Linked DNA regions of Homo sapiens: all the other regions are linked to region 2. The links come from fine-mapping of genetic effects on gene expression. A gene starts in region 2. Each other region holds a variant in brackets. All regions are shown on one strand. Distances are between the middles of the regions.

Region 1 (5,092 bases), 41 kb after region 2:
CAACACTCTTCACAACAGCCACAAGGTGGAAACTAACTAAATGTCTGCCAATGGATAAATGGATAGAGAAAATGTATAAACATGTAATGGAATATTATTCAGCTATAAATATTAATGAAATACTGATACATGCTAAAATGCAGATGAATCTTGAAAACATTATACTAAGCAAAAGACAGGCAGAAAAGGCCACATAGTGTATAATTTCTTTTATACTAAATATCCTAAATAGGTAAATCCACAGAGACACAAGACAGATTGGTGGTTGCCACGAGCAGGGACAGGGGGGTAACAATGAGGAGTTTAATGCGTATATACAGGGTTTCCCTTGGGGGTGACAAAAACATTTTGGAAATAGAGGTGGTAGTTGCACAACATTGTAAATGTACTAAATGGTCACTGAATTGTACCCCCTCTTTAAAAGCTGTGTGATCCTATTTTGCTTAAACAAATAAACAAAACAAATACATACGTACACACATACACAGGAACAAAGTCTGGGAGGACAATACTAAAATATTAATGAGTTACCAGCCTGGCCAACAGGGTGAAGGGTGAAACCCCATCTCTACTAAAAATACAAAAATCAGCCAGGCATGGTGGTGGGCACCTGTAATCCCAGCTACTCGCGAGGCTGAGGCATGAGAATCACTTGAACCCAGGAGGTGGAGGTTGCAGTGAGCTGAGATTGCACCACTGCACTCCAGCCTAGGCGGCAGAGAGAGACTCTGTCTCAAAAAACAAAAACAAACAAACAAAAAAATTGGCAGCACATTATAACATAATTATCAGCCTTGCCAAATATCTTAGACTTGTTAAAGCCAACACGGAAGAAGAGAACTAAAGATGTCAACCATCTTTTTCTCCAGAGAATCTGGGACTCCCAGATTGAACTGTATGGATTAATAGGAATCTTCTAGGGATAAAACCACATTTCCATCTCTGTTTTTGTTTTATTCAGACAGAGCCTTACCTACAGGTGCCTGTAGGCATTTGATAAAGCCTGCCTGTCCCTGGAGCACTCTGCCATCACGATTCCTTTTTATGGACAGAACCCTCCTCACTGCACTGCTGCCTGCCAGTGTCAACACCCAAATGTGAGATACAAAAACACATTCTCAAGGACTTCAGCATCCAATTTGAAAAAACATTTCCTTGGGACTTCTGAAGACAAAATTGGAAAAATTAATGAAAATATTTCTAGCACATCTGACCAAAAACTACGGGCTTTTTGGTACACCACAACTAGAGGCGATAGGGAGGAAAGCATACAGGCCCTCCACTCAGACTCTGATCCCAATCTCGATTCTCAGGCTCACCAAGGAAAAGACCTTAGAGGCATCATGTAGCTATTCTGGGCTTCAGCAGCTATCAACGTCATTATGAGGACTGAATAAGGTAGTGTCGGTAACACACCTGGAATGGCATCTGGCACATGGCTGCCATTATCATTAGTTAACAGTACTGATAAAAAACAGTGATCCGGGAGGATCACTTACATGGACCAATTCCTCATCATCTCGAGCAGAGTAAATAGCAAATCTCCTTTCCAATGTAGTCTGCAGGTTATCTTGTTCACTGGCTGAAAGTTCTGCATTAACTGTAAATGTTCCAATGAACCTGGGGAGAAAGCAGGCATTCCTTGTGTCAGAGGTCAGGGCAAAGGGGAATTTTCATTTCCAGCCAAGAAAATAAAAAGAGGGAGTGAATCGTGAGACCCGCCTGCCTCTGTCCTACTTTCCCCAGCCCGTCTAGCTAACTCCTATCATCACTGCAGACCCAGCTCAGACTTTACCTCCTTGGGGAGCCTTCCCAGACCTCCCAGCTGAGAAAAGCGCCCCTGCTATGTGAGCCTGCAGTCCCCAGAACACCCCTTCCAGGGCACTCCTCATGCCATCCTGTAATTACCTGGTATGTATTTGTCTCCCCACCAGTCTGGCAGCTCTACCAGGGCAAGATCATACCTGGCATTTCTCTATCTTCAATGCCATGCCCACCACCTGATACATAGTTACCGCCTCAGGGAAGGTCTGTGGAAGTGACCTGAACCCAGCCTCTGAGAGAAACACAAATCCTACACTCCCCAGCTCTGCAGGACAAGCGGAGGGCCTTACCACTTCACCAGGTTTGAGAGGTAGTAGGTGTCCACATCTCGAGGCAGCACTCTGGTAAAGCGGGCTGGGATGATGGACAGGCCAATAGCATGCAGATCTGGCTGGCTGCAGATGTTATTTCGATAGAAGCCATTTGCTAGCAGGCAGAGAAGGTGAACCTGTGAAGAGGAAAGGAGGAAGGGGCAGCATGGAAGGAAGGCCGGACACCAGGAGGAATTTTTGCTGCCAAAGTCAAGACATGCTGTGGACAAGAAATATGTGTTGCCATTTCTACATATAAGAAAGTAAAAACACTAGCATTGGCCACTTCCCAAGCTTGTCTTTGACCCTCTCTTTTTCTCTCTGTATACTCATTCCTTCAAAGGAATCATCAAACCTCAAAGCTTCAAAATACAAATTGCTTTGTTTTCAAAATACAAACTGTTTTTGTTTTGGTCTTGTCTTTCAGAGATACATACTGAAAGATTTCTGGATGAAATGCTGCCATGTCTGGGGTTTGCTCCACGAGATCAGAAGAAAAGGCAAGTGGAGTGGAGCTGGAGAGACTGCTGGAAGCCTGTGGAAGCCGGCGGGATGCACCCCACTGGGCTCACTGGG[C/T]TGCTCTCGCCACCTCTCTGGGTGTTTGAGCCCAACCTTCTCTGTCACAGGCTCCACATCTTTGCCCTTCCTCTGACCCCAAAACCCACCCTTCATCCACCTACTGAAATGATTATATGACCTCTTCACCTCTTTTCACATACTGCTTTGTGTCATTTTCCCTTCAACATTGGCTTCCTCCCCCCCGACTAACAGCCTCCCTATTTTAATCAATAGTGCTGCCTCTCTCTCCTCACTCAGGCCTCAAACCTGAGAGTCATCTTCCCTTTCTTTCACCTCCAGCACCCAACAAGAGGTGAAAGGCACACAGCTGTCTCGTTTCGTGCCCCAGGCCTGGGTGAGGGAGGCGACCCCTCTCTAACCTCGTCACCATCCTTGCACCTCTAGATTTCTGCAGTAGCTGCACACAAAGCAACTCACCCATCCCATCACTATCCTCTCAGGCAGCCCACCATCCATCAAAGGGAAACCAAAGCCCACCCTCCCTTCACCCCCACCCCCCAACACCTACATACTCCACACACGCAGGTGAGCTGGGCACCTCGCCGTCCCCTCCACAACTTGGCTAGAGTCTTCAACTTTTTCTCCTAGACCTGGCTCTAATCCTTTCCCCTACATAAAGCCTTCCCCAGCTCCACAGAGCCACGCTGATCTCTTTCACTGTTCCAGGCATAGCCTTGAGTTTCTCTGTTTGGAAGTCCTTGTTCCATCTAGAGATCAGATACTCCTCAATTGTAGGAAATAAGCTTTATCCAAGTCTCTATCCCCACCATGCCAAGCACCTTGCTAGGTGTGTGCAAGTGTTCAATAACTGTCAGCTAAAGTCAAAAGCCAGTGCCTGCAGCTGGGATTAGAATTAATGACATTAAATGGCTGAAAGGAGAGATGGAAGGCAAGTGCTCTTTATTTAGCCTCTGCTGCATGCCAGGCATTGTGCTGCAAGTTACCTTACCTATAATACACAACCACCCTCCAAGACAGACACTATTACTACCCCCACCTCCCAGATGAGGATGCAAAGGCTCAGAGAGAGTAAGAAACTTGCCATGGCCACAGAGCAGCAAAGCCAGAAATAAAGCCTCGGTGAGCACAAGCTCTTTGCACCGACAAGGAAAAGTCCTTCCCCATCATTCCTTGCCCTTACCTTGTGTGTGTCCTCATGGACCCCTTTATTGAAACGTTTCATCGCCCTCCGAAGATATGTCTCAAACTCCAGTTTTATCTTTTCACTGCAACAAATAGTGAAAAATCTGGGAATGAAGGGGGGAACTGAAACCAGACTCCACTCCCCCAGGCAATTCCTTCTCCTCGGATGACAGTGAATCACTCTCCCTGTTTCCCTACACAAGGCTGTGCTACTCAAGTCCGTCTGCAAGCCAGCTATTTCCTGCAGGCTCTTTGGCTCCTTCTCACCAGCAAACCTCGGCCTGGGACATTCTGTACCCAGACAACCCTCCTCTCAACCAGCAGCAGATCACACCTCACCTACATGCCTCAAAGCTCACTTCTTCCAGGAAGTCTTCTCTGGCTGTCCAACTCTTCCGACTACTGACTCTCTCCTTAGCAACCATTACCTTTATTAATGTTAAATTAACACACCATCATTTATGTGACACTGTTCTAGTGTAAAATCTCTTTTTCAGTCTGTATCCCATTAATCTTCAAGACAACTTGACACTTCTTGAATGATTTGTATTATCTCCCTCTTCTGTGCCTAGTAATGTGCCCATCGCACATTGGAATTCCCAAGCCATCAGAGGCTGCAGAGGTACTCCGGGATGCTGGGAAGGATAGGGGCTCCCTACCACGGCGGGCACTGCCTCAAGTCCTGCAGCATGACATGGTGAGGAAAATGTGAATGCCAAGTCAATGAGAAGGATTAGGTCTCAGCTCTTCCATTACTGGCTGAGTGACTCTTGAAACGTTACTTAGCGTCTGAACGTTACTTAGCTCCTCATTCACAACACTGTTCTAAGGATTAGGTAAGATAACGGATGACCTGCTCAATCCTTGGCACACAGGAGTTCCCTCTCCTCATCCCTCACCAGCCCCAGCCAGGACACGAAGGTGTCTCATTCAAGTCTCTAAAGGTAAATCAGGTTCCTGACCCAAGGTTCTCGACCACTTTGATACTCAGTCCTGGTCCCCTACAAGTTTCTCCAAAGTCCTCCTAAGCAGCAGCTGTTGCCTACTGCATGTGACAGGAGCCTAGAAGCAAGGGCCTAAGCTTACCTTCTTTCTCTTGTCTTCGCCTGCTCTGGCGTTTCAATCTCTATCTCCACTGGCTTCACAGGCAGAAGAGATCGAGAGAAGGCTGTACTTTCTCTCACGTCACCCAGCACAGGCTCACTAAGTTCTATCAACAAGCATTTTTAAAAATC
Region 2 (5,104 bases):
GCAGGCTCTGCATTAGAAAGAGGAAACTAAGAAAGAAACACTATGGTGCTGACACAGGAGAAGTGTGGCTAGCCCAAGGCCCAGGTGCGAGGCTGAGAGCCCTTGAATGCCAAACCAACGAGTTTAACCTGAAGGCTGGGTAGCAGGTGGACCCCTGAAATAAACTTGTACAGGCAAGTGATTCACTCAGAACAGAGGGCAGGTAAATGCATGATTCAATAAAGATGTGGGCACCCATTGTACACCAAGCCCTGTGCTAGATGCTGGGGATTCCACAGCCCATCTGATGCTCTCAGCTTAGTGCGAGAAGACAGGCAGGAAGTAAGATGGCAAAAAATAAAAAAGGTCATTTCAGACAGTTCAGGATGTGAAAGACACAAAGGGTCAGGAGGTGATATTGGAGCTAAATGTTAAAGGATGAGGAGTCAGCCACGGAAGAGCTGAAGGCAGGATATACCAAACCAAGGGAATAGCCAAGAGGCTAGAGGCTGGGCAGCAAAAGGGTGGGAAGAGACCAGGCTGGAAAGGCAGACAGGGCCAGATCACATAAGCTCTGATACAGTAAGCAGTTTGGGATCATTTTTTAAAAATCCTATGGGAAGCATAAAGGATCAGTGGGGGGCGGAGGGGGGGAAGTTAGGGACTTCTTACGGGGACAGTGGTATGCACAAGATAAATACTAAGGAAGGCCTATAAGTGAGTGCTTTCAATTCTCACTCCTCTCCGAACTAAGAGAGATCTTTGAAGCAGGAAAAGATAGGGCTCCATGTTTTGGAGGCAGATGGACCTAGCCTCCCCTTTCCAGAGAAAACTGCCTCCTGTAAATCCTCAAAGAGGAGGGTCTTGTTTATCAGCACAGCCTCATTATACCCAAAGGCTCAAAAATTATTTGCTAAATGAAGTAAATTAGAGAAAGACTCGAAATTAAAAACAAGAGTGGTGAGGGCAGAGGACTTTTGCTTATGGCACACATTAAGTAGTAATCAGCGGAAATATAATAGTACTCATTAAAGAGTGAGTCTTATGGCTTTACGACCCAGAGGAGGAGAGGTTCTAGAAGCAGACAGCGCCACCAGGGAAAAGGCTCAGAATTTTAGGCTGAGCTAGTCTCCTAACTGGATGTGTAACTACAGGTAGGCCACCTCCTTCTCTGGGCTTCAGATTGCTTGAATTAACTGACGGAGCTGGAGTATTCACCAAAGAATTTCTGGGGGACTTCCAACTCTCTCTGTAGTTTTATAACCATCCATCCCCCTTCTCTGGCGCAGAGAAGGTGCTTCATGAGTATTTGCCGTATCAATGAAGCCCAACATCTCATTTTACAACACTGGATACCAGGGCCTGGAGGGGTTAGGTGGGAGCTCAGGGCCAAGGAGCCAGTTTGTGGCAGTGTGTGGGGAGGCCCTCCGACCTGTGGCTCGGGTACTTCTGAGCTCTTGGGTAGAGTAACATCAAGGAAGCAGTAGGTGGTCGGAGCTCAACTTTGGGGTGGGAGGTAGGCAGGGTTCTCCCTGCAATCCACTGGGCACTAGATTGGATAAGGCTCTTCTGGGGTCACAATGCCCAGGCTCAAACCCCAGCTCCACGATTTGCTGGCTGAGTGGCTTTAGCCATGTCTCCTGTGTCTAACTTTACTCTTCAGTAAAATGTGACCAACAACAGAGCCTGACTTACAAAGGTCGCAGCGAGATCTGTGAGACAAGCCAGGCAAGTTTCCTTGAACAGTGCCTGACAGGTAGCAGGGGGCTCAAAAACATTCCCGTTAGTGGAACTCCTAGCACTCCAGCACAGCACACGCTACCCCGAGTGGCAACTTTTCGGGACGCGCCTTTTAAAGGCGCGTGCAAAATGTAAACACGTGGGGTATGGCAGGAGCGGTAGTGATAATTAACCACCATACATTCCCAGTTTCGAGCCACACGCAACGTGCTCGGCACTTCCCGTGCCCCAACCGGACCTAGTTTACGACTTCCTACGCACAGGCCCCTCTGAGGTCAGGGTTCGGGCTTCACTGTGACCTTGGACCAGCCCCGTTCCCCCCAGAGCTTCGGTTTTCTCATCCGCAAAACAGGAGTAGCGACCCCCCAGCCGGCCCGCCTCCGAGTGTCCCAGGGTGGGCACCTGGGCCGCGCCTCAGGTGGCCCGCGCCCGGCGTGGTCGCGGGGCGCCGGGGCCCGCGTGTCTCCCGCAGGCCCTCGTAGGCCGGTCTCCGTGGCAGCCCGCCCTCCCTACCTTCCTGCCGGCAATAGGACATGGCTGCAGCCCGTCCCTGAGACCTTGCAGAAGCGGCGGTGGCGGCAGCTGCACCTTTACGCCGTGACCTCCCTCTCCTCTGGCAGGGCGGGCTCCTCCGAAGCCCGCGCGGACCCGCCCCCTCCCAGGCCTGCCCGCCGCGCGCCTGCCTCGGCGCCCTCGCAACCGCGGCCAGGCCAACCTCAGCCGGAAACTACATTTCCCAGCAGGTCGCGCGCTCCTCGACAGCTCTCCAGGCAGTAGAAACTACATTTCCCCGAAAGCTTTGCAGTGCGCAGGCGCATCAATGAGGTACTGCAATGTCCCGGACCGTATAGTTTCCAGGACGTCTCGCCGCGCGCATGCGCAGAAACACTGGGCACAGGGGGAGGTAACTGCAGTAAGTCCCGCTTGGCCCTGGAGTCCACGCGGATTTTCGAAGCTGGGGCTGGCAAGAGGCCGCTGGACACCACGCTCCAGTCGTCAGCCCACTTCCTAGCTGAACAGCGCGAGGCGGCGGCAGCGAGCCGGGTCCCACCATGGCCGCGAATGTGAGTATCCCCGGGCCAGCCGGGCCACACCCAGGCTTCCCCGTCGCCCTGGGGCTTTTCCCCGGGGTCCTCTAGGTCCATTTCGCCGCCTGGAGCTCCTCCGTGCGGCTAGGCCCGCATCTCCCTCTGCTCGCCGTGTCTGTGCCTTCGCCAGCTCATCCCTCTGCTCATCTCGCGGCCTGTCCAGGCTTCTTTTGTCCGTGTTCCTTGGCTCGCCTCGTCCTCGGCGTTCGTGCGGAGGCGGACTCGGAGGTGTTGCTCCCGTACTGGGATCTGCTTGTACGCCTCTCCGCGGCCCCTCCTTGCATTCCCAGTTCCCTCCTGTACCTTGGGGCCCTGAAACTTGCGCATTATGAGAGCTGGACGCGACCTCAGAGAGGGCGCCAGTCCCTTGGGAGGGAGGAAGGCGATCCAGCCCAAGTGGAGCTGTCCAGCAATGGACAGACAGGGCTGTCCAGGCGGGCAGAGAGCTCTCCGCCCTAGGGAGTCTCTGTAAACCGAGTCTGTGATGCTCCAAAAAGCTTAGGCTGGGCTGGGAGCGAAGGAGTTGGGGGAGAGGGAGCATTTCTCTACTGTCGGGGCCCCTCCTCCCCCTAGCAAGGATTTGGTTGGAGGAGGCCTGGCTGAGGGCTGTTCCCTCAAGGCCTCTTCTCCCTGCAACTAGCCTTTCTCGGGAAACTATTTAAGCCCAACATTCATTCAACAAGCAGCGCCTCCTACCAGGGCGCTGGGTGTGGGAGAAGCTGGTGACTCACCTCTCCCCTCCTCTGTGAAAGTGCTTCTAGGGCCCGCTTAGGAGCCCAGCCAGCCCCAGACACACCCTCCCTCCTGCTTTGGTAGAGTGTCCTAGCAGCTCTCCCCTTGCCTGTCACACCCTATTTCCAGACACCGCCTCTGTCCCCAAGCGTCCTCTCTGCCTCCCACACCCCTTGAGAGGCCAGGGTGTGCATCACCCACAGCCCTAGTACACTTTGTCTCGGGTTAGTATCATCCACACTCCCAGGACATTTCGGGCCCACAGGAGGGTTAGAAGCCTTGAATGTTGTACCTAGAAAAGCCTCAGAGGTATTCGGAGAGACTCAGGCTCGGCCAGGCGAGAGGGCAGTCAGGAGACCAGCCTGTCTGTAGTATGTGGACTCTTTGTCTGCTCCCATCACTACCACCACCATATTTTACAGATGGGGAACTTCCCTAGCAGGGGAAGGCACTTGCCCAAGCTCTCGTGGCCGGCTTGGCATGCTGTGACACGGAAATATGCTGAAAAGGGCAGGCTTTGGAGTTAGGGAGACCTGGGGGCAATCCAGATTCTTCCACCCAGTAGCTGTGTGGCTTTCATCTCTCCAGGTTTATGTAGCCTCATGGATCAGTTACTGTGATATTTAAGGGAGACTGCTTAGCACAGTGCCTGATGTGTGGTAGGTACTTAATACTTGAAAACAAGCCTGTCCTTGCAGGGTAGCACAAATGGTCCCAGTGGATAGAGATCATCTTGGGTACATTGAGACCTGACCCCTCACCAAGGAATATACATGCATTTGAGTATTCTCTGCTGCCAAGCATTTTTTGATTCATCCAGTAGCTGAGTACACATTTACAGCAGCCACTAGGCTGGGTGAGGAAGAAGATAGCGGGATGGAGCAGGGAGGCAACAAAATTCTCAATCAGTACAGCAGCAGCAGTACCTGTGGTGAAGGTACTATTCCCCTCTCCACTTTATAAGTGAGTAAACAGAATCAGAGAGGTAGAGCAATTTACCCAGGCTTACACAGCAAGCGATTGGTGAACCTAGGCATCAAATCCAGTTCTGTCCATTTCCAGGGCCTATGTGTCAGCCTCTGTTCCCACCACTCATTGCTCATTTCTTCTAAGTCCTGAGTGCTAGGACTGGGAGGGGATGTGTCACTGGGGATGTCCGTCTGTGTGTGCGTGTGTGTGTGTGTTTATATAATGTGTGTATACATGTAATACATACTATATGTATATATAAATATGTGTGGATATATAGATCCTTTATGATCCTCCATGTTTACTGGGAATTTTGGTTCAGAATGTGGGCTGGGTTTGTCATGTCACTGCCCACCTCACCCCTCCCCTAGCCTGAGGGGCACCCTCCTGTACCTCTCTTCCTTCCCTCCAAGGCCGTCTTTGAGCCCCTTATCTTGATGCTGGCTGAGGGGAGGCCCAAGAGGAAGACACGCCTTATTTTCCTATTGCTGCCTGCAGCTGGCTCCCAACATTCAGCTCACATTGTAGCCCAAGAGATGGGGAGCACAGACTGGAATGAGTAATGGGAGAGTAGCCTCCAGTCTGCCCGGATTTGA
Region 3 (5,104 bases), 90 kb after region 2:
AGTGGGAACTGATCTGTCCCACCTGCCTCCTGATGGCCTCTGTGTGCCTGGCAGGGATGCCTGCCCCAGGCTGGGATGGAGGCATGTCTGCAACCTTGGAGGGGACCCAGGAGGCCAGGGCAGGTGGGGTTGACCTTGTGACTCGGAAGCTGGCTCTGTGTGAAAACACAGACAACTGGATGGGCCTGGGGCCTAGGGGTCAGCAGCCCAGCACCTGTCTATGCTGGTGAACCCGGGAGAGAGTGGAGGGTCAGGTGAGGTGCAGAGAGCAAAAGCGAGGCTTTATTCATGGAGGTATACTGTTGTTCTCAGATGCCCCTGCTCATCCTATACCTCCCTTAAAGGCTCAGCCTTCGGAGAGAAGCCCTCTGAAACCATCTAAACTCCCTTTTCCTCCTCTGGCTACAAGAGTCGGAATTCCCACTACCATTTCTAGAAGGCTGGTTATGTGCCAGGCCCTGGGCCAGACATGCTACAAATAAGATCTGACATTTAGCTTTCCCAACAATCCTGTGACCATGCTGTAACGAGCTAAGGCTCAGAGAGATCAAGTGACTTGTCTAAGCTCACACAGCTGATGAGCAACAGAGCCAGGGTGGCAGCTCTATTAGGATAGAGACTTTTAAAAAAAAAAATTTTAGACAAGGTCTAGCTCTGTGGCCCAGGCTAAAGTGCAGTGGCACGACCACAGCTCAGTGTAGCCTCAAACTCCTGGGCTTAAGCAAGCTTCACGCCTCAGCCTCAACCTCCCAAGTAGCTAGGACTACAGGTATGAACCAACACACCTGGTTAATTTTTAAAATTTTTTGTAGAGATGGGAGCTCACTATGTTGCCCAGGCTGGCCTTGAACTCCTGGACTCAAGTGATCCTCCCACCTCAGCCTCCCAAAGTGCTGAGATTATTGGCGTAAGCCACTGCACCCAGCTGGGATTTCTGACTCCTGTTTGCTGCTGTATTCTCAGTGGTTGGCACGTAGTGGCCACTGAGATACACATTTGTTGAATAAATGTCTGACTCCAAAGCCACACTCTTTGCCCTATACCCCTCTCCTTCCTGGGAACTCTCATGGGAAAATTCAATTTTGAGTGAAAATTGACTTGGAGGACTTCAGTCAAGAGTGAATCCATTAATTTCTCTTCTATGGGTACTTTCTGTACTCACCAAAATAAAGCAATAAAGAAAACTCCCCAAGTAGAGTGTCAATGACATTATGCACATTTTTATAATTAGTAATCAGGGCTGCTGTGGAACTGATTTCTTCCTCAGGAGGATTCACAAAGATGCTTGTTAGCTCATTTTGCTTTTTGTCTTTCCTGCAGACAACACGGACAGCAACAGACCTTGGTTTTTCTGTGTCTGGTCCTTCTCCGAAAGTTCAAAGCCTTTTTCATTTTGCAACACAGAGTCTCTAAGGCACCTTCCTTAAGCCATGAGTTTCTGACTTTATATTCAACCTAGGCTTTGGGGGTGTGGAAAGGGTCATCTGTATATCCTCAGATTTCCAAAAAAGGAATTGCGAGGATGGCTTACTGCATAGCTCCCTGTTGTCCAGCAAGGCCCAAGGCCTGTTTGTTGGGTCATTACCATCCATGCCACACAGCGACTACAATTCTACAATTACAAGTGAACTTCATCTAACTTTACTGACCATGATTTTTGTGGTTGTTCATCATTCAGGACATATAGTTCAGCATCTCACAGAGCCCTAAGTCAAAATAATGCACTTTGAGTTTTAACTTCTCAGAGCTGAAAGGGATCCTACAGATGACCGCATCTAACTTTTCCCAAAGTCTTTTTCACACCACACAGCCACAGGATACTGTACCCGGGAAGGTTTCCTGTGTTGCGGAAGTGTGGGAAGTGCTACGTGGTCTACCTCCCTGTTAGGACCCACAACGCATAAGGGCAGACTGAGGTTTCCAAGAAGTCCTGTAGGAAATATACTTTTGTTTAACTTTGTTCTACACCGTATTCCCAAAATTACTGGCCCAGGAGGGGGAAGCCTTCTGTGTTTTCTTTCTTTTTCAATTTATGGAAAATTCTTTGGGAAATAAAACTCTTATCAGACCCCACCTCTCCACCTCCCAATTTTACAGATGTAGAAAGTGATGATCAGCGGAGGAAAGAGAAAAAGCGGCCAGAAGTTGTCCATAGGCCAGGCCTGGGATATATGTCTTAACTCCAGGTTCACGATTCCTCTCAGCCACACCTCCCAGGTAGGACTGTCAAATGGTTGTTAACAGAGATAGCAGGATAGTAAAGTGCAGATTGACCCAGGTTTTATTGCACCAGGTTTTGCTGATTCTGAAGCCAAGTGTGCTGAAAAAGATAACTGTGGAGCAAGTTCACTTCAAGTCATCCCAGGTGACTGTTTTCACGCCTGCATTTGAGAGCACAGGGGCTGAACATGACCACCCTCCCTCTTCTCCAGCTGTAGATGACTCCTTATAAAGAAGATTTGGGGTAGATGGAAGATGGGAAGGCGGGAAGGGCGGGTGGTCAGCGACAAAAAGGCCATCACACGTCAGCCCGCTGGAGTGGTTGCTTGACTACAGCGATGGTGGCCCCTCACTGAATGGGACAGGATACTGCAATGGTGAAACTCTGGGTTTAAATCCTGGCCCCACAGAACAACTTCATGACCTTAGACAAAAAACGTAATCTCTCAGGGCCCCAGCTTCCCACTGTGAAAATGGGATAATAATGGCACCTACATTTTCCTGGCACTGCTCTCTCAGAGGAG[C/T]TTATGCCATGATTTCTTCATAGGGAACATGGGGTAATAAATACAAAGTTCCTGACATAGAAGGAGGTTTTCTAAAAGACACTGAGAGGCTCACCTGGTGGCTTCCTGTCATAAACCTGAAGTGGCGGTGGGGGTGGCTGGAGCAGGTAGCCCAGGAGGTCCTTTAGGCTGGCATGCAGCAGGAAGAGCAGAGAAGGGGGTAATAATTTGGGTAAAGATAAGGGGGAGATGCTCAGTCCACAATGATGAAGGGCATTTTTTTATTTTCTTGAGACAGGGTCTGGCTCTGTCACCCAGGCTGGAATGCAACAACATAATGATGGCGCACTGCAACCTTGACCTCCTGAGCTTGAGCAATCCTCCAGTTTCAGCATCCCAAGCAGCTGGGCCTACAGATGTGTGCCACCACACCTGGCTAATTGTGTGTGTGTGTGTGTGTGTGTGTGTGTGTGTGTGTACTTTTTGTAGAGACAGGCCTCACTATGTTGCCCAAGCTGGTCTCAAACCCCTGGCCTCAAAAACAATCATCCCTCCTCAGCATCCCAAAGTGCTGGGATAACAGGTGTGAGCCACTGCACTGGGCCAAGGGCATAATTTTTAATGAAAATTAAGGCAAAGAACAGTTATGGGAGACAAATAGATGACAGTATCAAGGACTTTTTCATTAGCAATTAACAACAACAAAATAAAACCTCAAACTGACTTAAGAAAAAAAAAAAGAGCAGCGGGAGCTGACTGTAGACATGGCTGCATTCAGGAGCGCAGGCTATGCCACCAAGAATCGGTCTTGCTCCGTCCCTTGGCTTTGCTCACCCTGCTATTGACTCCGTTCTCAGTCAGATGCTCCCCTCGTTCCCCTCGTGGTGACAGGATGGCGCAGCAGCCCCTAGTGGACATTCTGCAGCTCAGTCACCCACCTCATTCCCGAAACGCCAACCAAAGCCCCAGGATTCATTATGGTTGGCCCAGCCCAGGTCATGTGCCCCTTCCAATTACTGGCACTGATTGGCCGGTTCTGGTGATGAAGCAGACAGGGGGCTGGGACCCTGGTCTCCTGCCTTCTTTGAGTTTCCTGACTTGTCCGTTCGTCTTCAACTGGCCCACTGTTCCCCGGGCTCTTAAAACCACACCTCATTTAGGCCTCTGGCAAGAAATGGCTACATCCTCTACAGCGGTCTTTTGCATTGACTTGGACTCTTCTGTTGGCTTAAAGGCAGATTCAGGACATGCCAGTTCAGATAGAGGGAGACAGACTCGTGTGTGATCCTGGGATGGCAGAGGATTTTTCATCTGATGTGCCAGTTATGGTTAATAGTGGCTGCCCGAGGGCTGTTTTGCAGAGGATGGTAAAGCTAAGTCCAGACTCGGAGGGAAAAGAAGCTGTGATTGATTAATAATGTCTGCCAGGAGCCCCGGAGCAGTCAGTGGTGGCCGACTTGCCGTGTATCGGCCAAACTTCATTGCAGAAAGAGCACGGATCACGGAAAGCAGCAGCCCTGTTCACAGACACCTCCACCTCTCAGCCCTGCGATCACACGCTAGTTACTTAGCTTTACAGGAAACAATTCTCCCATTTGCACAATGAGGACGTGTATCCCAAAGAGTTGCTGAAAGAATCAATAGAGACAATGTATGTAAACTGATCACGATCCTGCACGGAAAACAGAGGCTTTGGCTTTTAACAGAGGTGGAAAGTCATGTTGTTTTTCCAGGGGCCCCACCCCAAAAGTGCTTGTATGGCCTAGGACATCTCAGGAAATTTTTTTTTTCTTTTTTTTCACTTTCTTTCTTTCTTCCTTCCTTCCTTTCTTTCTTTCTTTTTCTTTTCTTTTCTTTTCTTTTTTTTTTTTTTTTTTTTGAGATGGACTCTCGCTCTGTTGCCCAGGCTGGAGTGCAGTGGCTCGATCTCGGCTCACTGCAAGCTCTGCCTCCCCGGTTCACACCATTCTCCTGCCTCAGCCTCGCGAGTAGCTGGGACTACAGGGGCCTGCCGCCACCCCCGGCTAATTTTTTGAATTTTTTTTTAGTAGAGACGGGGTTTCACCGTGTTAGCCGGGATGAGTCTCGATCTCCTGACCTCGCGATCCCCCCGCCTCGGCCTCCCAAAGTGCTGGGATTACGAGCGTGAGCCACAGTGTGCGGCCGGGAAAATTTTCTTGAGTTCGAACTTCTTTTTTTGAAATATGCGCTGTTGACACCTGGCCTTATCCCTTCAGGCCTTCACAGTTCAGGCCGTTTGGCCCCGCTTCTCCTCGTTGACTTTCCCACCAACAGTGCATTGACCAGCACCACCGTCTGAGAACTCACAAAGGATCTGATTTACCTTCCTAGGATTCCGTATCACCTCTTCTTACACCAAG
Region 4 (5,104 bases), 48 kb after region 2:
TCACACTAAACATTCAGTGTTTACAGAGTGTTACCAATGAGAAAACTCAGTTCAGAGAGGTGAAGTTACTTGCTCAAGATTAAATTACTCACTCACACTGCCACCTAAGTGGCAAAGTTGAGCACTGAACCCAATTCTAACTACTTTCAAAGCCTGTGCTCCTTCTCCTAAATAGTGCTGCCTCTCTATTTATATCTACCCCATTGACAGTCACCAGAGGAAGAGAGTAAACAGCCTTCTTTGGTAACTTGGCCATGAGTTTTTCCATATATATCAAAGCAAGTCCCTAGTACAACCTTATCTGTGGTCTAATTAGCTCAAAAGAAAACAAAAGGATTGCAATTAGTGATCTGACTCCAAACAGAATCAAACAAAAAAACAAACAGAACCAAACAGTTCTGAAAACAAAGAAAGATGTTTCACCTTCAACCTCTTCCCAATCATTTTCACTTTCTTCCTCTTCTTCATTGCTGTCTTCATTCATGGTAGCCCCTCTCTTCAGATGGTGTGCCTTCTTGAGGTCACTTGGAAAGTCCCTGTGTAAAGACCACAGGAAGGAAGATGAAGAAGACTCAGACATCCTAGTGTTCCATTCAAGCTAAATGGAATTTTTAAAACCCCTCCTATTTATTGAGAATCTGTTGCAACTATTTAAAGATGATTAGTAAGCTCTGAGCCTCACTTCCTCCATCAACATGTGTTCCAAATCTCATCAAGATGTGCTCTGATCATCTGTCTAATTACTACCAGATGTGCTGTTAAAAAACCTACAATCTAGATCGTGTGAAAGAAAACATAGCTGTGCCTGGACATGACAAGGAAAAATTAGAAGACACCAAAATAATAATGAGTTCCAGAACTGTGATATCTGTGTGATATATGTGCAGTTGGAGGCCAGAAAGAACAGAATAAAATCTCCATTTATATATCCTACTATAAGCCTACTCAGACTTCTTTTCCATCTTTAAGAAATATGATGTAAGGAGACTGAAATTCATAGCATTCTAACTTCAAGCAGGGATGTAACTACACATAGGTGAGTCATAAATAACAAGAGACATAGACAGCTAGCTAGCTAAGTAGATAATAACATAGATAAGTAGCTGGCTAAACAATGGCTCAAGGCTAAGTACTTGCTGATACGTAATATATTTCTGCAAATTCATATATAAAATGTGTCTAGAGTATCCAGTTACTTTTAACTTGTGTAAACTTTGGCACTTGGTACCAAGTGAGAATATTATCTAGGATTTTGGTATAAACATTTAAAATAACCAATCATCAATCTTGAGCTCTAATAATACACTCTTTTTTTAGAGTACCACTTTCTCTCAAAACACCAGCAATAAAAATTTCCCCTTAGAATGAACATAGCAGAAATGACCACAGTCAATGCTCAGGGGAGAGGGAAAGGGGGACCCAGAGCTTTCCTTGGCAGTATCGTGGCCTATCTCTATGTATATGTCTCTGGAGATAGAATTCAACTAGTGAGGGGAGGCAACTGGAAAGCAGTAAGTTCAGAGGTATTCTTCAGAAAAGTCTAGGGAAGGCCAGGCGCAATGGCTCACGCCTGTAAGCCCAGCACTTTGGGAGGCTGAGCAGGGCAGATCACCTGAGGTCAGGAGTTCGACACCAACATGGTGGAACCCTGTTTCTACTAAAAATACAAAAATTAGCTGGGCGTGGTGGTGGGCACCTACAGTCCCAGCTACTCAGGAGGCTCACTTGAACCTGGGAGGCGGAGGTTGCAGTGAGCCAAGATTGCATCACTAGACTCCAGCCTGGGCAACAGAGCGAGACTCCATTAAGGACGGGACCGGGATGGGGACGGGACGGGGCGGGACGGGAAGGGAAGTCTAGAGAAAAGGAGAAGAGATGGATCATGGCGGAAAATCATCATGCTGTCCCGTGTCCCTTCCTGTGCCCTCTACTGGACTACTCTCCCATCCCAGGACTAGAGGCTGCTGGAAAAGCTGATACTGGCAGTGAGGATTTGTTTATGAAGCAAATGAAAAACTATCCCTCTGTTCTTCCTCTTCTCCCCACCCCTCAACTTTCTTAGGAGGCAGAAAATCAAGTGTTCCCTGGGCTCATAATCACTGTTCACAACATATTAATATAAATGCTCATTCATTGCAAAAATACTTGTTCAGTTTCTGCCAAATAAAAGGGCCTGCAATGGATGCTACAGGGCATATGAAAA[G/T]GAACCCCACATGGTTCCAGCCCTCTGAGAGGTCACAGGGTAGTAAGCCTGGGTATGTGGCATGGTAACAATAACTGGCAGACATATCACACTCCCTAGAAGCGCTACAGGAAGTCAGAGGAGAGAAGGGGGAAGAATCAGTGAAGCCTCTGGAGTAGGTGGTTTCAGATCTGCATCTTCAAGATGGAAGCCAGCAAGCACTCCAGGTAGAGGGAATACCATGAGCACAATGCAGGTGTAGAAAGTAGGAGAATGTGTTCAGTGAATGATGAGAAGCTCAGGTGGGCCGGAGAAGAGCGTGCTTGAGGACAGTAGTATGAGATAAAGCTGGAATGGCAGGTAAATATTTTGTATACATCTAATATTTTTGTGTAGTAGAAAGAGCACTGGACCAGGAGTCAGAAGACCTGGGTTCTCCTGCTTTTGCCACTGTCCAGCTGTGGAAGCATGAATAAATCACTTACTGCATGCTGTCACTGTTCTTATCTGAAAAGTTTCCAGCTCTTACCGGTCTGAGTTGTACCTAGAAGAATTTAAAGATCCAATCTTCCATGGACCCCAGTGACAAGTAAGAATAGAGGTTTTCATTATTCACAATTCTCTGATGAGAAAAATCAAGACCCGAGACAAAGCTTTGCAGACATCTCACCTGAGGTCATCCCCATCGCTGAGGGCTTCATCCTTTATAACCTTGAGGTTTTCAGATTTAACAGTCACCTTGGCCACTTTCTTTTTTGCTGGACCATCTGCTGAACCCCCAGGATGACTGCAGCCTCTTTTCCTCTTTCCTTGTGAAACTTTGGAGAGAAGGCTCTTCTTTGGGGGTTTCTCATCTTCAAAGGCATCTAGGTGACAACACAGAACATAAGGTGAGGGGTGGAAGGAAAGGTGGAGGCAGTGCAGCTTATGGGCAGGGGCATAAAACGGCTCTATGACCTGTCTCCAAACCCCATCTCCATCACTGGTTCACCATCCCCTGTCTGGTCAGCAACCAGCTCTCAGCTTCTTCCCACCTGCGGCTAGTCTATATTCACAGTAAAAACCATCTTCCTTTATCAGCACTTTACTTCTCCTATGACTACAGAAAATACCATAGGACTCAAATAAAACCTAACTTCCAGATCTTAAATGTCAGCTAACCTCCTGCCAGGAAAATACAACATCCATTAATTAGCACCTTATTTATTATCTGCCAAAATTAATTGTCTTAGGGATAATGTACTCCTAAGTAAAATGTTAAGTACATAAACATGTCCAAGTTTTACCACAACATCATTACTATTAATCTACATTTCTGCCAACCTTCAAGACCAAACTGCTCAAAACACATACTGCTCTGAAACCTTTCCAATGTAACCCAAATGGCACTCATATACCAACCACCTCAGCAAACTTACAGTTGGAAAAAGACAGCAATAATTCAAAAGTATTTTCTTAAAGTAATTATTTTTTTGTTAAAGGGAAATAAAAAATGCATAAGCTGCTGGTTTTAGTCAAATTGGGGTATCTAAAATTATGGTTTATTTACATATAATAATTATATTAATAGATTAGTTTTAACAAATAATATGGCAGGGAAGGATAGTTTTCTATTTTGCAAATATATTCACACAAATTATCTTGAATCTGAAATAAATCTTTTGTCTTTGCATGACTCTGCTTCAATTAATTTTAGAAAATAAAAATACTCTACCTTTTATTGAGGTTCCAAAAGGGATTGCAATATTAACCTAAAATATAAAATTATTTAATAATTCAGTCTTTTCATTGTTTGTCTTGCTGACTCTCTGGATGGGTATTTATATTCCACAAGAATATACTTTTGCATGAGGGAAAAAAGACTCTCCCTTCTGATCTAAATGAAATCATGATTAAATGTTAATAAAATTCATAACAAAGGAGCATTTATTTTAATGTTAGATCATTGATTCCGTTGTTTCTTTAAATGTTTTATAAAAAAGGAATTTATGCATTCCCATTTTTAAACATTGTATGGAAACCAAAAAATAAGGAAAAATTTTGAAGTACAAATTATTTCAAAATTAATTTTTTCAAATCTGAGAACAGATTGCCTACTCCAAGGCCAGAGGTTGCATAAAGCTTAAGATTTGACAGTTTGAGGAGGGTGCCCCTAAAATCAAGATTTCTGGATCTTACAATGGTAGTTAGCCCTCTAATAATAGGCAAAGATGCTAAACACTTCAATTTCTACTAATCTAAAAAAATGCACGTAGGAGGATACTTCAGAGGCATCACAAACTTTTCTAGTTGGTTAAAAAGCACAGCTTTTATTTCCGTTTGAAGAGAAAGGTAGAGGAGTTAAAAGGGAAAGGGGGATAAAGGAAACACAAAAACTCTGAATCAAAAGGATGTTCATAGTATTCAAAAGCATCTAACAATAATCTGAATGTCCAACCATGAGATAATTGTTAAGTAACTTATGGCAGAGCCACACAACAAAATATAATTGAGTCATCCTTTAAGATAAAGAAAAACGATATATGATGTAATGTTACTCATGCAAAGTTGATTTTACAGTATGCTTTCTGCTATATAAAAAACAGACTAGAAGGAAACAGACCACTATTTCATGGTGGCTATTTCTGGATGGCAGAAATATGGGTGACTTTCTGTTCTCTGCTATTTTTTGGTCCCTAAGCATCTAGAGACTCTTTTCCAGGACTCTCCAAAATCTTGAGTTATCTAATATGCCTAACCAGACTCCTTGAGTTCAGTGTTCTTTCAGTAGGGCAGGAATTACCACTGTGGTCTGCTTGCCCATCTACTGGGATTTAATAAGAACACCGGAGTAAACCTTCCAGCAGCAACTCATAGCACTCAGAATAAAATTCCAACTCCTTAGCTTGGTATCCAAGCTCAGGCCCTTGCTCACTTCTCCTA
Region 5 (5,104 bases), 120 kb before region 2:
TTCCTGTGTTAGTTCGCTTAGAATAAATAGCCTCCACCTCCATCTATATTGCTGAAAGGACATACTTTTTAAAAATTGGGTTATCTGTCTACTGTTGTTGAGTTGTAAGATAATTTATTTATTTATTTATTTATTTCTGAGACGGAGTCTCGCTCTGTCGCCCAGGCTGGAGTGCAGTGGCGCTATCTCGGCTTACTTCAAGCTCCACCTCCCAGGTTCACGCCATTCTCCTGCCTCAGCCTCCTGAGTAGCTGGGACTACAGGCGCCCGCCACCACACCCGGCTAATTTTTTGTATTTTTAGTAGAGACGGGGCTTCACCGTGTTAGCCAGGATGGTCTAGATCTCCTGACCTCGTGATCCGCCCGCCTCGTTCTCCCAAAGTGCTGGCATTACAGGCATGAGCCATTGTGCCCAGCCAAGAATTCATTATAAATTCTGAATACTAAGCCCTTATCAGATACATGATTTACAAATATTTTCTCCCATTCTGTGGGTTGTCTGTTTATATTCCTGATAGTGTCCTTTGGTAAACAAGTTTTTGATTTTTTTATGTAAAAATATTTTAAATTCATAATGTGACACAAAATGACTTTTACTATTTCCTTATGAGTTTTATATTATATTATGATAAACCTTCAAAGGAATCCTTGAGAATTTACATGCGTGGAGAATTTGTTTTCCCCTACTCATTAAAGTGGAGCCAATCCTCCATATGGTACAGAGAGGCAGCACATCACTCCTAAAATTTACTTGTACCACTTAAACAGTTTTTAATTTTGATGAAGTCCACTTTATCTGTTCTTCCTTTGGTTTCCCTTTCCTCCTGCCCCCGGCTTAAGATGTCATTTTGAAGAAGCCATTGCCTGGTACAGGAAGATTTATACTTACATGTTCTTCTAAAATGTTTAGGGTTTTATTTATTACATTTAAATCACTAAGCCATATTAATATAATTTTGTATATGGTCTGAGGTAGGTATCTAACTTCACTTATTTGCTTAGGAATATTCAGTTCTAACAACACCATTTGCTGAAAAGATGTTTTCTTACCCATGGAATTGTCTTGACACTTTTATCAAAAATCAGTTGAGCATAGAAGTATGGGTATATTTCCATTTCAGTGATCTGTATGTTTTTCCTTAAAACAGTGCCATACTCTCTCAATGACTGTAGCCTTATAGTAAGTTCTGAAATTGTAATTGTGAATCTTCCAACATCTTACTTTTCACGATTGTTTGGACTATGTTGGGTCCTTTGAATTTCCATATGAATTTTAGATTCAGTTTGTCAAATCTATAAAAAAAAACTGGAATTTTTATAAGGATTGCATTTGAATCTATAGATCAAATTGCAGAATATTGACATTTTAATATTAAGTTATTTAACCAATGAAGGAATGTCTTTCCATTTACTTAGATCTACTTTAATTTATTTCATAATAAAAACACAATGTTTTATTACATTGTACATGTGTTACAAAAAAAAAAAGTAATGTTTTGTAGTTTCTGGGTATGGTTGGATTCTTTAAATTTACTCCTATGCATTTTATTCTATTTTATGGTGTTGTAATTGGATTTTTTTTATCAATTTCTTTTTCAGAATAGTTAATGCTAATGTACAGAAATATAAATGATTTTTGTATGTCTTGTATTCTGCCACCTGGCTGAACTCATATCAGCTTTAATAATTTTTTGGGTTTCTTAGGATTTTCTCTTTTTTTCCCGTTTTTTTTTTTTGAGTTGGGTTTCACTGTGCTGCCCAGGCTGGAATGCAATGGCTATTCACAGGCATGATCATAGCACACTACAGCCTTGAACTCCTGGGCTCAAGCGACCCTCCTGTCTCAGCCTCCTGAGTAGCTGGAACTACAAGTATGTGCCACCATCCCCAGCTATGATTTTCTATATACAAAATCATGTCATCTAAAAATACAGATAATTTTATTTCTTTCTGTCCAATCTGATGACTTATATTTCTTTTCCTTCCCTAATTGCTATGGCTAGAGCTTTCAGTATGATGCTGCTATGTTGAGAGCTGACATCCTTGTCTTGTTCTTGATTTTAGGGGGAATGCTTTCCATCTTTCACCATTAAATATGATGTTAGCTCTACATTTTTTGTAGATGACTTTTATCAGTTTAAGGCAGTTTTCTTTGATTCCTAATTTGTTTTGTGTGG[G/GT]TTTTTTTTTTATAGTCTCACACTGTCGCCAGGCTGGAGTGCAAATGGCACGATATCGGCTCACTGCAACCTTGGCCCTCAGGTTCACGTGATTCTCCTGCCTCAGCCTCCCAAGTAGCTGGGATTACAGGCACACACCACCATGCCTGGCTAATTTTTTGCATTTTTAGTAGAGATGGCTTTTCACTATGTTGACCAGGCTGGTCTCGAACTCCTGACCTTGTGATCTGCCTGCCTTGGCCTCCCAAAGTGCTGGGATTACAGGTGTGAGCCACCACACCCGGACTTTTTTTGAAATTGAGTCTCCCTCTTGTTGCCCGGTCTGGAGTGCAGTGGTGCAATCTCAGCTCACTGCAACCTCCACCTCCAGAGTTCAAGCAATTCTCTTGCCTTAGCCTCCTGAGTAGCTGGAATTACAGATGCCTACCACCACACTTGGCTACTTTTTGTATTTTTAGTAGAGATGGGGTTTCACCATGTTGGCCAGGCTAATCTCGAACTCCTGACCTCAGGTGATCTGCCCACCTCAGGCACCCAAAGTGCTGGAATTACAGGCGTGAGCCACCGCGCCTGGCTGTTTTGTGTTTTTATTATGAAAATATGTTGGATTTTTGTCAAATATTTTTCTGTGTCTATTGAAATGATCATGAGGTTTTTTTTCTTTATGCTTTTAATGTGGTATATTATATTGATTTTTCATATATTTGAACATACCTTACATTCCTGGAATAGATTTCCATTGGTCATGGTGTATAATCCTTGTTATACATTGCTGGTTTCAGTTTGCTATTTTAATTTTTATGATTTTTGCATCTATATAGATTAGAGACATTGATCTGTAGTCTTCTTCTCTTATAATGTCTTTGCCTAGTTTTAGTATCAGGGTAATACTGGCCTCTTAGAATGAGTTTGGAAGTGTTCACCCCTTCTTTCTTCAGAAGAGTTTATGAATATTAGTTTTAAATCTTTTTAAAATGTTGGTTAGAATTCACCTTTGAAACAATCCATTCCTGGGTTGTTTTGTGTGTGTGTGTGTGTGTGTGTGTGTGTGTGTGTGTGTGTGTGTGTGTGTGTGTTATATGTTTTAATTTAAATTCATTTCTTGTTATAGCTCTCTTTAGGCTTTTTATTTTTTCTTGAGTTCACTCTTTCAGTACTTTGTGTTTTTATAGAAATTCCATTCATCTAAGTTATCTAATTTTTGGCATGTGCTTGTCCATAGTATCCCCTTCATAATCCTTTCTATTTCTGTAGACCTTGTAGTGTCAACCCCTCTTTCATCCCTAATCCTAGTAATTTGATTCCTCTCTGTTTTCTCTTGGCCAGTCTAATAAAATTTATCATCTTAAAAATTTCTTCAGAGAAAAATTTTGTGGATTTTTTCTGTTCTCCTCTTTTCTATATTATGTATTTTTGCTCCAATATTATTTCCTTCCTTGTGAATATTTTGTGTTTACTTTGCACTTCTTTTTTCTGCTTTTTTAAGGTGGAAAGGAACACTACTGGTTTGAGATTTATCATTATCTCTTCTTTTTTAATTAGACATTTACAGCTATAAATTTCATCTAAGCTCTGCTTTAACTGCATCTCATATGTTTTGGTATTTTGTGTGTTTTTACATTTCAACCTATATTTTAGATTTTAGATACAGGGGATATATGTGCAAGTTTTAGGTATATTGCACCCAGGTAGTGAGCATAGTACCTAATGTGTAGTTTACCAAGTCATGCCTCTCTCCCTACTTCCCTCCCTCTAGCAGTCCTTAGTGTCTACTCTTCCCATGTTTATGTCCATGTGTGCTCCATGTTTAGCTCCCACTTGTAAGTGAGAATGTGCGGTATTTGGTTTTCTGTTCCTGTGTTAATTTGCTTAGGATTAGGCCCTCCAGCTCCATCTGTGTTGCTGCAAATGACGTAATTTCACTCTCTTTTAAAGCTGTGTAACATTTCATGGTGTATATGCATCACATTTTCTTTATCCAGTCCACCACTGATGGGCACCTAGGTTGATTCCAAGTCTTTGTTGTTGTGAATAGCATGGCAGTTAACGTATGAGTGCATGTGTCTTTTTGGCATAATGATCTGTATTCCTTTGGCTATATACTCAGTAATGGGATTGCTGGGTTGAATGGTAGGTCTGTTTTACGTTCTTTGAGAAATCTCCAAACTGCTTTCCACAGTAACTGAGCTAATTTACATTCCCACCAACAGTTTATAAGCATTCCCTTTTCTCCACATCCACTGGTTTTTGACTTGTTAACAATAGCCATTCTGACTTGTGCGAGATGGTATCTCATTGTGGTTTTGAATTGGATTTCTCTCATGATTAGAGATAATGAGTATTTTTTCATATGTTTGTAGGCCACTTACGTATGGCTTCTTTTGAAACATGTCCGTTCATGTCCTTTGCCCAGTTTTTAATGAGGTTATTTGCATTTTGCTTGATTTGTTAAAATTTCTTATAGATTTTGGATATTAGACCTTTATTGGATACACAGTTTGGAATATTTTCTCCCATTCTGTAGGTTGTCTGTTTACTCTGTTGATAGTTTCTTTTGCTTTGCAGAAGGTCTTTGGTTTAACTAGGTCCCACTTGTCAATTTTTGGTTTTGTTGCAATTGCTTTTGGAGACTTAGACAAAAACTCTTTGCCAAAGCCAATGTCCAGAGTGACATTTCCTAGGTTTTCTTCTAGGATTTTTATAGTTTGAGGTCTTAGATTTAAATCTTTAATCCATCATGAGTTAATTTTTTTATATGGTGAAAGATAAGGATCTTGTTTCATTCTTCTGCATATGGCTAGCCAGATACCCCAGCACCATTTATTGAATGGGGAGTTCTTTCCCTATTGCTTGTTTTTGTCAGCCTTGTAGATCAGATTCTTACAGTTGTGTGGCTTTATTTCTGAGTTTTCTATTCTGTTCCTTT

Direction of the effects. Alleles are on the strand shown, and positions count from the first base shown. SD is a standard deviation of normalised expression in the study named. Not every link is listed here.
For the expression in monocytes after LPS of the gene that starts at base 2,630 in region 2, GT is the high allele of the variant in region 5 and G is the other (moderate effect, 0.43 SD a copy in Quach 2016).

The links. PIP is the estimated chance that this variant, and not a neighbour inherited with it, causes the effect.
Region 1: its variant is fine-mapped to the expression of TMEM43 in testis (GTEx, PIP 0.98).
Region 3: its variant is fine-mapped to the expression of TMEM43 in blood mononuclear cells (TOPMed, PIP above 0.99).
Region 4: its variant is fine-mapped to the expression of TMEM43 in whole blood (TOPMed, PIP above 0.99).
Region 5: its variant is fine-mapped to the expression of TMEM43 in monocytes after LPS (Quach 2016, PIP 0.95).

What each region holds. Positions count from the first base shown.
Region 1 is chr3:14,163,314-14,168,405 of GRCh38, forward strand. XPC (XPC complex subunit, DNA damage recognition and repair factor) reads right to left here. Exons shown (of 16, transcript NM_004628.5): 4 at 4,944-5,067; 5 at 3,856-3,940; 6 at 2,115-2,272; 7 at 1,500-1,620. Among named protein-coding and RNA genes, the nearest start is that of XPC, 13 kb to the right of the region's middle. The variant C/T (reference allele first, on the strand shown) is at 2,712.
Region 2 is chr3:14,122,423-14,127,526 of GRCh38, forward strand. It overlaps TMEM43 (transmembrane protein 43), which reads left to right and starts at 2,630. Exons shown (of 12, transcript NM_024334.3): 1 at 2,630-2,783. The coding sequence starts at 2,772. It overlaps CHCHD4 (coiled-coil-helix-coiled-coil-helix domain containing 4), which reads right to left and starts at 2,448. Exons shown (of 3, transcript NM_001098502.2): 1 at 2,233-2,448. The coding sequence starts at 2,254. RefSeq lists enhancers at 1-601, 1,205-1,304, 2,073-2,807, 2,675-2,874, 2,808-3,542 and 1 more and silencers at 1,865-1,914, 1,925-2,484.
Region 3 is chr3:14,212,719-14,217,822 of GRCh38, forward strand. No RefSeq gene overlaps it. Among named protein-coding and RNA genes, the nearest start is that of LSM3, 36 kb to the left of the region's middle. RefSeq lists silencers at 3,666-3,715, 3,746-3,825. The variant C/T (reference allele first, on the strand shown) is at 2,745.
Region 4 is chr3:14,170,015-14,175,118 of GRCh38, forward strand. It overlaps XPC (XPC complex subunit, DNA damage recognition and repair factor), which reads right to left. Exons shown (of 16, transcript NM_004628.5): 2 at 2,853-3,048; 3 at 424-536. Among named protein-coding and RNA genes, the nearest start is that of XPC, 6.0 kb to the right of the region's middle. The variant G/T (reference allele first, on the strand shown) is at 2,204.
Region 5 is chr3:14,002,775-14,007,878 of GRCh38, forward strand. It overlaps the pseudogene TPRXL. Among named protein-coding and RNA genes, the nearest start is that of CHCHD4, 120 kb to the right of the region's middle. The variant G/GT (reference allele first, on the strand shown) is at 2,179.